Linked DNA regions of Homo sapiens: region 1 is linked to region 2. The links come from fine-mapping of genetic effects on gene expression. A gene starts in region 2. The other region holds a variant in brackets. All regions are shown on one strand. Distances are between the middles of the regions. Region 1 overlaps ZNF274 (zinc finger protein 274). Region 2 holds the start of ZNF274 (zinc finger protein 274).

Region 1 (5,368 bases), 26 kb before region 2:
CCAGTGTAGTCTCCCACCCTGAAAAAAATAAACAAAAGATGTGGATCCCATAGAGAGATGTGCTGGGATGGGTCTGAGAGCATGAAATGCATAATTAAGTTCAAAAGTCAGGATTTTTTTTTTCTCCCAAATAGAGTCATGCAACCTGGAGAGAGACTGAAAAGCAATGAAGCGGCAGGGAGGGGAGCACTGACCTTGGTGAACAAGGGACAGGAAGGGCAGGGAGTGTCCTCCGAGCTCTTCGAGTTCCTGTTCTCTCATACTCCCTCAGGAGATAGATAGCAAATCACTCCTTCACCGGACCTAAGGCTGCTTCTGGCCACCCAGTGACCTCACCCCTCTAGGTCTACAGTTCCACTTACAGGCCCTGGATGCAGCAAGGGCCCCTTGAGGGAATGCCCAGTGTGGAGTCTAGAGAAGGTGAACACCCCTGACTTGGGGCTCCTGTGGCCTACCAGCCCTGAGGTGGGTGAAGAGGGGGCACAGCCTTACCCACAGAGACCAGGTGCCCAAAGGTCTCCAGCATCACATCGCGGTACTCGGTCCTCTGTGTCGGGCCCAGCAGCCCCCACTCCTCCCGGCTGAAGTCCACAGCCACATCCTGGAAGGTCACTGGCTCCTGTAACATCACATATGTGTCTATGCTCAGCAAGAGGGTCAGAGGGTTGTCAATGAGGGCAGAAGAAAGGCCAGCTGGGAGGTTCTGACAGAGCTCACGGTGCTAGGGACTCTCCTGCTTTGGGGATTTGCTCAGAGACACCAACCCAGGGCCCACAAGAGTTCTACTGGGTCCAAACCAGGGTCTGGGTCTCAGGCTGGGAGGCAGAGCCCTTGCTTCATAAAGAGCTCCAAGTGCAACAAGCAAACAACTCCATCCTAACCACGGCTCTATCCAGCTTGCCCATTGCTGAAATCTTCCCACTGCAGAGGGTTCTCCATCTATTAATACTGTCTTCCCACTTGGTGGAAATGACAACCAAGCCCCTGCCTTTGTCGACAGGGCTGACCTGGGGGAGGGCAGTCACCCTGGCACAGCCATGACTGGTCCTTTCTGGGGAACTGACCAGGACTTTGGGAAGAAGAGGTACCCCCAACGCTGCTTTGCCAGGATCTGAGGCATTTTGCTTACATGGGGCAGAATCTGCCTAAGAAGAAAGGGGAGTGGCCACGCGCAGTGGCTCACACCTATAATCCCAGCACATTGGGAGGCCAAGGCGGGTGGATCACCTGAGGTCAGGAGTTCGAGACCAGCCTGGCCAACATGGTGAAACCCCGTCTCTATTAAAAATACCAAAAATTAGCCGGGTGTAGTGGCAGCTGTCTGTAATCCCAGCTACTCAGGAGGCTGAGACAGGAGAATCACTTGAACCTGGGAGGCAGAGGTTGCAGTGAGCTGAGATCGCGCCATTGCACTCCAGCCTGGGCAACAAGAGTGAAACTCCATCTCAAAAAAAAAGAAGAAGAAAGGGGAGAAAGCAGAGCCATGAAACAGGTTGGCCAGAGATTCTTCCCATCACCTGGGAGCACCTGGATGCAGCCTTGCCTGAAGCCTACCAGAGAATACATGAGAGCCAATAAATTGACTTCTACGCTTGAGCCAGTATAAGCCATTTGCAGTGCAAACAGGTCTGACCAATGACACATACATACCACTACCCCAGTGGTCAGCGCATCAGGACCAATCTTTTTCACCCACACCCCAGCTCTGGGTTATTCTGAAGCAAATCCCAGATACCAAAGATAAATACCTAAGTATGCATTTCTGAAGGTTGAGGGCTCTCTTGTTCTGACCTGGATACAGATGTGCCTGCCTGTGGTAGTTCCACCTCTCAAGTCTCTGTAAACACTTAGTCCCTTCCCTCTTGCCTCCTGCTTTCTCAGCTCCCGGGTCACCATGCGTTGTCTCCAGTGATGCCACAGTGGCTGGAGGGCAGGGCTGCTCTTCATACTCAGATTGCTTCAGCACAGACCTAAGAGCTCAGAATCTCAGAATGTCCCAGCCTGTGGGAGGTCTTAGGAAAGCCCAGGGCAGAGTGGATGCCTCAGGGGTGGGCCTGCCTCACAGGAGATGCTGTGACCAAAACAGGGTGATACTCCCCGCTTACCTCAGGGAGCACTGTCACTGGGCAGATGGCTGCATCCTCCTGCTTCTCCTCCTGCTGGGCAGTGACCTCGAGGCAGCAGGTGGTGCCCTCGGCAGGTTGTCCTGCAGGAAGTACTGGGAGGAGACACCAGCCAGAGGAGGTCAGCAGGTGTGGGGACCCTTAGGCAGGGCAAGGGTGGCCTCTCTGCAACCCATGGGGCCACCGCACCCCTGCATCGTACTGTGGCTCCATGACAGCCTCTGCTCCTGTCCTCCCTTCCCACCAGCTCTGCTCCCCTCACAGCACGTGCCCGAGTGCCCACACCTGGATGGGCCCGGGATGGCTCACCCTCCAAGGGTCACAGGGCACCAGTGTCCTCACTGCTGAGACTCTGGTCCCACTCCTTCCCTTTCCGGGGGCTGCTGAGGGCCCCAGCCCCTCCTGTGAGGCAGCTGACTGACGCCCCCTCCTTAGAGTCAAAGCCCCTGTTTCCGGCCTCCAAGCCCTGCACCCTGCCTATTTGGGCACCTCTTCCTTCTTCCCTCTCTCCTCCCACCTCATGGAAGGTGAGACTTTCCCTGGACCCATGAAATGCAGCCATCTTGAGGTGAACGTCACCAAGTCTCCTCCACCTAAGAAAACAACAGCTCCACCTGGCCCAAGGGCCCCTGTAACCACGGCTCCTTCATTCTAACCTTCCTCACATGACCCCAAATGGTCCACAGGCTTCCACAATGCTAATCTACCCCCACCATCAAGGTGGGCCACAAGATGACTTAGGCTGGCACACTGGACCATCCCTTTCTCTTGGCCACAGTGATTAGATCTGGGATGAACACAGCCTATAGCCAGATGATTGGAGCCAACAAGGCCTTAGTTGGAACATTTGGGAAAGAGAAATCCCATGCAGGGAGACAGCCTGCCCATGATGAAGCCAGTGGAGGGCAGAAGAGGTAAGAATGAGGGACAGGACAAGTCTGGAGGACACTATTGGAGCTCCTGGGTCCAGCCCTGCCTGATGCTCGAGCACCCTGGAACTTTTCCAATAAATTCTCCTTCTCCCTTGAGCCATTCTGTGCAAGGCTTTGCAGCAGTCACAC[T/C]CAAGCGTCCCAACTAACACACTGATCACATAATGTGAGATTCTCAGGGTTCTCTGGAAAGCCTCTTCCCATTGTCTTCTGTGGCACTAATTTATTTTATTCACCCCTGAGGTTAAACACAGGGTGAATTCACTGACTTTCACCTCATTAACCCCACAACTGTCTCCTTGGCACCTAACTAACTAGTTTCCTATTGCTGTTATAGTGAATTGCCACAATGCCAGCGGCTCAGATTAATGCAAATGTATTACCTTATGGTTCTGGAGATGAGAAGTCTGGTTTGTGCCTCACTGGGCTAAAATGAAGGTGTCAGCATGGCTATGTTCCTTTTGGAGGCTCCAAGGGAGAATCCATTCCTTGCCTTTTCCAGCTTCTAGAGGCTGCCCCAAACATTTGGCTTATGGCTTCTTCCTCTATCAGCTGCTCCTATCATTACATCTCCTCTGACCCTCCAGCCTCCCTCTCCTAAGGGCCCCTGTGGTTATGTTAGATCCACTCAAATAATCCAGTGCATCTCTCCCTCTCAAGATCCTTAATTGTTTCTGCAAAGTCCCCTTTGTCATGTGAGGCAACTTATTCACAGGGTCCAGGAGTCAGGACATGGACACCTTTGGGGCAATTATTCTGCCAAGTACAGCACCCCAGACTTGGTGCATCTGACACAACTCATGCAAGTGCCTGCCCTGCTGCCTCGGATACCCGATCTCCAGGATGCCCTGGCCTCTTAGAATCCCACCATCCCCCTGCAGGATACCTTCCCCTTTCCTGCAATCACAAACATCAACCAGTCAATCATTCGTTCACATCAGAAACATCTTCTGGGCACCCGTGAAATGTGGAAAATGGAGGTGAGCAATGCAGAAGCATGCACGCTCTGTGAAACTCAGCCTGATGAAGAAACCAAGTCTTGCAGTCTTATTCCCAAATACACACTCCACACGTGTAGTCTCTCCCCAGTCAGACATCACCATCACTCCTATCCAAGACACCACCCCATCAGAGGGCATGGCAATAGCTGCGGGTAGCCTGTGTCCAGCCTCGCCCCCATCCTCTGTCCACCATCCACCACACATGCAGCCTGGTAAATCTCTAAAGGTCAAATCCAGTGGTGCCACCAGTTTCTGGAACTCAGGGATCGAGCCCTACTGTTTTAGAAGAACATTTTGCTTTGCTTTAGGACTAAAGTCCCCACTGGCAGTGCCAGCTCCAACCTCTGCTCCCTTCCATCACAAACATAACCGATTTTTCTGAGTTTTGCATTTACTGTGATCCCTTCCATCTTGGCCCTTACAGGCAGTGCTCCCCTCTGCATGGCACATCTTTCCTGCCCCCTTTCTTTACCCTGGCCAAGTTCCACTCCACACCAGGTGTCAGCTGCAGACCTTCATAAGCCTCACCATCACCTCGAGCTCCTCATAGTCCCAGCATTTTTCTATGCATTCTCATTTGTCAAATCCCTGTCTCTCCTGCTACTGCGGGCTCTCTGAGCTCAGTATTCCCATCTATCTTATCAAGTGCTACAGGGCTTATGGTGCAGCAGGGATGCCAGAGGGATAAAAATGAAGCACTTCATCTGTGTGCTTCCATCAGAAGCCCACGAAGGGCTAAAGAATGCAAGGGTTTCAGTGGCTCTGACTCAGGAACACGTGGGCAACATGGATGTCCTTGGTCTGTATGGAGCGGACACAATCCTTCCCATGACCTTCCTAGGAAGCCTGGAGTTCTTATCTCCCCCACAGGGTACTCCAAGACACCCTCATTAAGCTGTCCCTCTACCCACCCTTCTACTTACCTTCCTCCTCAGACATCCAGGTCACACCCTCTACCAGGGCCACCACCTCTTGGCAGTTCTCTGGGTGCTGCGATTCCACCCATGTCCGGAGCTTCACAGGCAGTGCACCTAGGAACTGCTCCAGCACCAGCAGCTCCAGGATCTGCTCCTTGGAGCGTGCCTTAGGCTGTAGCCACTGGTGACACAGCTCTCGGAGCTGGTCCAGGGCCTCCCGGGGACCTGTCATGTCCTTATAACGGAACTGCCGGAACCTCTGGCGCGCGGCCTCAGGGTCACCTGGATGCTTGCCCTGCTGTTGGACCTGCTCACTGGGGGCATCTGCACTCAGGCTTCCATCTTCAGCATATAGGGCCTGGATCTGGGCATTCCGGGGACCAGCCACCTCCTGGTTC
Region 2 (5,368 bases):
GGACTAGGCAATGATTCAGAAGTCATACTGAAAAGCTGCCCTTTTCCTACTGGTGCCCCTGCAGTGTGAGCCCAAGCAGACACATACTTCAGAGGTGCTACATTTGTGCTACAAAGCACAGATCCTTCTTGACCTGGAGGCCAGCCTTACCCACTGAGACCAGGTTCCTGTAGTTCTCCAGCATCACTTCCCTGTACAGGGACTTCTGTTTGAGGTCCAGCAGTCCCCACTCTTCCGGGGTAAAACCCAGTGTTACATCTTCAAAGGTCACTGGTTCCTAAAAATCCAGATTCTTGTTCAGCCACAGGCCATCCGCATCCACGACAAAAGAAAGACAGGGGAGGCTGACCAGGCCAGTGAAAGCACAGAATGGTCTACAAGATGACCCAAGGGCATTTTGGGAGTCTCATCCTGAGTTCCTGTCTTTGTCTGAAACCCCAAGCAAACCCAAGCTTGACTCTATTCAGGTTACAATAAGGAGAGCAACACATGAGATCTCTGTAGCATATGAAAATCTGTCCATTTTATTTATTTATTTATTTATTTAATTTATTTATTTATTGTTTTGAGACAGAGTCTCACTCTGTCTCCTAGTGGAGTGCAGTGGCGCAATCTTGGCTCACTGCAGCCTCCACCTCCCAGGTTCAAGCGATTCTCCTGCCTCAGCCTCCTGAGTAGCTGGGATTACAGGCGCATACCACCATGCCCGGCTAATTTTTGTATTTTTAGTAGAGATGGGGTTTCACCATGTTGGTCAAGCTGGTCTCGAACTCCTGACCTTGTGATCTGCCTGCCTCGGCCTCCCAAAGTGCTGGGATTACACATGTGAGCCACCGCACCCGGCCCTATTTTTCTTTTCTTTTTTTTTTGAGACGGAGTCTCTCTCTGTCGCCCAGGCTGGAGTGCAGTGGCGCCATCTCGGCTCACTGCAAGCTCCGCCTCCCCGGTTCACGCCATTCTCCTGCCTCAGCCTCCCGAGTAGCTGGGACTACAGGCGCCCGCCACCACGCCCGGCTAATTTTTTGTATTTTTTTAAGTAGAGACGGGGTTTCACTATGTTAGCCAGGATGGTCTCAATCTCCTGACCTCGTGATCCACCTGCCTCGGCCTCCCAAAGTGCTGGGATTACAGACGTGAGCCACCGCGCCCGGCCCCCTATTTCTTATTCATTTGAAAATTCTGACTTTGGGAGTGGTGCGTATGCCTCCTAGGGAATTCTCTGAGCTGCACCATCACACCCAAGCCGTCAGCCCCTACCCAGGGCCCTGATGCTTCTTTCTATCTCCTTCACCTGTCAGGGATCCATCCTCACCTGTCTTTTCTACTTGTTATTGAACTCTGCTGCTGTCACCTCTTGCTTGATGCCAATTTATCTGCTGAAATCTAAACATAAGCCTGATCCCTGCATAGACCTTTGGGAGGCCGAGATGGTCGGATCACCTTAGGTCAAGAGTTCCAGACCAGCCTGGCCAACATGGTGAAACCCCGTCTCCACAAAAAACACACACAAAAAATAAAAATAAAAAAAAAATTAGCTGGGTATGGTGGCACACGCCTGTAGTCCCAGCTACTCGGGGAGGCTGAGGCAGGAGAATCACTTGAACCCAGGAGGCGGAGGTTGCAGTGAGCCAAGATCGCGCCACTGCACTCCAGCCTGGGCGACAGAGGGAGACTCCATCTCAAAAAACAAAAAACAAACAAACAAAAGACCTGTCAATTACTCTTCCCAATATAAAGGATACAAGCAAGAGCCTTAACCTGGCCTTCAGAAGCCCCTACAATCTGGTCTCTATTCTAACTACACCCTTGGAAAACCAAGCAACCTGCGGTTCCACCATCACGCAGGATCTCTCATGCCCAACCAATCTCTACCCCCTCCCCGAGGTGCTCTGGAGGATGGGGGTATCTCAGGGAAGGTGGTATCTCACCACCATCCGCATCCTCCCAGGTGCAGTAGCGGACTCAAAAGCTGAAGGAAGCCTCTACTCACACAGGACCAGGCCGTCGGAAGCCTGGAGGCCATAGTTTCCTCCTTCTCAATGTGTCTCTGGTGGAAGTGGGCAGAGTCCTGAGGAAACCGAAGTTGGGAGGGGAGGGAGAGGCTTAAGGTGTCCGCTGGGGAGCTACCGCAGCCTCCGCCCAGGAACGGCTCCCTCAGCGGGAAATGACAAGTCCACCCAAACTGGAAAACGCCCAGAGTGAGTCATAGGACTCCCACAGGACTGGATAGGACCAGTTTTCCCCTCCCCGAGAGGACACCGAGCCTCCTCTGTCCCGCGCATCGGAGGGGATCGCCTCCCTGGCCCAGACCCCACGCTTCCGGAGGCGATCTGTTCTCTCCACCGCGGCGCCCCGAAAGCACTGTCTCCCCTCGGGGTTCCGGGTCACCGACCCCATCCCACAGAGCGGCGGGAGGACTGCAGGCACGGCCGGCTCAGGGTACCCGAGCTCGGCGGAAAATGCAGAGGCCGCGCTCGCCCCCAACTAACGGTTCTGGACCCGCCCAGCGCAGCCCCCGACGGACGCAGGTTTCGCGCGGCACTCACCCGGCGCGCGCCGCACAATGGCGCCCGTCGGCCGGCGGCGAAGTGCGTCAGCCCGCCGTCCCGAACTACAACTCCCAGACGCCCCCGCGGCGCGCCAGCTTGCCTCACCCAGCGGCGGCCATCTTGACTGGCCGGTTAGGGGCGGCAGGCGAAGCCGGGGACAGCAGGAGGAGGATACTCGTCGATGTCCCTCGGCGGTCCAGCTAGGCAAGGGGAGGCCTCTGGTGAGGGACGCTAGGCCGCAGGGCCCCACACTAATGTGGGCGGCGACCCGAGCTGGGAGAGAGTCGTGCCCTGCCACGAAGGCGACCACTCTTGGGGCAGAGCAGAAGCTGGAGAAAGGAAAGGCGCTGGACAGGGGTCAGGCCGGAAGTGCTGGAATGGGTGATGCTTGGTTGGGTGGCGGTGGGGGCGGGATTAATTATGACGTCCCTTGGGAAGAGGAAGGGCGGGTAGGGCCGGAAGTGCAGGGGGCGGGCCTAACTGGCCGTCCATCTGGGTGGAGGGGCGGGGACAGGGAGGGCGGGGAGAATGTAGGAGGCGGGGCTAGAGTCCACGCAACTTTTGGGGAAGGAGGGGGACTGGAAGACGGAAGTCGCGGGGGGAGTGGGGAGAGGTACTGAAGTTCCACCAGTTTCAAAGTCGAGAAAGAAGGGGAGGACTGGGAGAGCCGGAAGTGTGCAGGAGTTGGGACTGACGGCACTTATGTTTCTGGGAGATGGGTCCTGCCTGAAAGTGAGGGTGGACAGGGCCAAGTGTCCACTCAAGGTCAGGGAGGGGAGGGAAACTCGGAGGACCGGAAGTGTGATGGGAACGTGGCCAAACGTCCACCCTAGTTCTGGGGATTAGAGGAAGGGAGTAGGAAGGTCAGGGGTGTGCAAGGGGAAGGAGGGAAGACTAGGTGGACCACAAGTGTGATGGGAATGAGGCCAAACGTCTACCCTAGTTCTGGAGAGATGATCAGGGCTAACTGTACCCCAGGCATTGGGGAGGAGGAGCAGGATCCTCTGCCTAGTGTCCCCCTGTGGTCCAGTTTGCTCCTGGAAGCTGAGGTGCTCATGTCTAGGGAGAGGAAACCTAAGTCTGTAGCTGTCCAGGACCTGGTGTGTGCCACCCATCCTTGGGCCCAGGGTGCTCTCATCTTCCTTGGGAGCTCAGGACAAGGAGGTATTCTCTTGGCTTCCTCAAGGACCGACATCTGGTGTTTTCTTATCTTCCTTAGGTCCCAGGTCCCAGTATGGTCTTGTCTTCTTGGGACCTGAGGGCCCTAATGATCTCTCTCAGTGCTCAGGACCCTGTGTCCTCTTTCTTGATATTTCCTGGCAGGTCTCAGCAGCCCTCTGCCTCCCTCTGGTGGTCGTGTACACTGCCTGCTAAACTTGTTCCACGGGTTGTTGGTTTTTTTGGTCACTGTGGAGGATCCAACCTCAGGCTACACATTGTTTAATTGTTGCTGTTAGTGTGTTGATTTTGGCATAGGAGTATTTACTCAGAGACTGTGCAGATATCTTATAGTCTAATAATATTTCATTGGATTTTTCGTGTCTATTATAGATACAACACCATCCCCAATTAATAAGTAATTTGATATCTTCTTTTTCCATATTTCAACTTTAAAAAATTAACATTGTATAGTCCTAGCTAGTATGACAGAGCTATGTTAAGTAGTCATGTTTACTAATAGTCTTGTTTTGTTCTGGATTTGAATAGGATACGTCTAGCCCTTCATAATCACAAGGAAGCAAACCCCCTTGGAAATTCTTTTTTTTCTTTCTTTTTTTTTTTCTTGAGACAGGGTCTTGCTCTGTCACCCCGACTGGAATGCATTGGTGCGATCACAGCTTACTGCAGCCTCCACCTCCTGGGCCCAAGTGATCCGCCCACCTTAGCCTCTCAAATAGCTGGGACAGGTGCACACCACCACACCTGGCTTTTTTTTTTTTGGAGACAGAGTCTTGCTCTGTCGCCCAGGCTGGAGTGAGGTGGCACAATCTCGGCTCACTGCAACCTCTGCTTCCTGGGTTCAAGCGATTTTCCTGCCTCAGCTGCCCAAGTAGCTTGGACTACAGGTGTGTGCCACCATGCCTGGCTAATTTTTGTATTTGTAGTAGAGACGGGGTTTCTCCATGTTAGCCAGCCTGGTCTCGAACTCCTGACCTCAGGCAGTCTGCCCACCTCAGCCTCCCAAAGTGCTGAGATTATAGGCATGAGCCACCCCGCCTGGCCTCTTTTGTACTTTTTTGTAGAGACAGAAACCTCACTATGTTGCCCAGGCAGGTGGAAATTCTTCTAATGATTTCTTTCTATTTATGTGGTATAGGATAAAACCTGATTTTTGATTAAAAGAATTTGTTTTTGAGACAGGGTCTTGTTCTGTTGCCCAGGCTGGAGAGCAGTGCTGCAGTCATGGCTTACTGCTGGCCCAACCTCCTGGGCTCAAGTGTTCCTCCCATCTCAGCTTTCCAAGTAGCTAGGACTGACTACTGGTGTGCATCACCACACCTGGCTAATTTTTAATAAATATTTGTGTAGAGATGAGGTCTCAGTGTGTTGTCAGGGCTGGTCTTGAACTCCTGGACTCAAGCAATCCTCCCGCCTTGGCCTCCCAAAGTGCTGGGATTGCAGGCGTGAGCCACCATGCCTGACCAAAGATGTTTTGTTTTTTTTTTTTTGTTTTGAGACAGAGTCTCGCTCTTTCGCTCAGGCTGGAGTGCAATGGCGTGATTTCGGCTCAACTGCAACCTCTGCCTCCCGGGTTCAAGTGATTCTCCCTGCCTCAGCCTCCTGAGTAGCCGGGCGTGCCACCATGCCCGGCTAATTTT

What was found. PIP is the estimated chance that this variant, and not a neighbour inherited with it, causes the effect. A credible set is the group of variants that fine-mapping cannot tell apart.
Region 1: its variant is the best candidate, but not a certain one, in a credible set for the expression of ZNF274 in thyroid (GTEx, PIP 0.72).

Annotation. Positions count from the first base shown.
Region 1 is chr19:58,206,811-58,212,178 of GRCh38, reverse strand. It overlaps ZNF274 (zinc finger protein 274), which reads right to left. Exons shown (of 8, transcript NM_133502.3): 5 at 4,977-5,368; 6 at 2,106-2,218; 7 at 493-619; 8 at 1-18. Among named protein-coding and RNA genes, the nearest start is that of ZNF544, 19 kb to the left of the region's middle. The variant T/C (reference allele first, on the strand shown) is at 3,185.
Region 2 is chr19:58,180,621-58,185,988 of GRCh38, reverse strand. It overlaps ZNF274 (zinc finger protein 274), which reads right to left and starts at 2,928. Exons shown (of 8, transcript NM_133502.3): 1 at 2,547-2,928; 2 at 1,991-2,068; 3 at 151-277. The coding sequence starts at 2,023. RefSeq lists enhancers at 2,076-2,265, 1,892-2,603, 2,516-2,935, 2,604-3,317.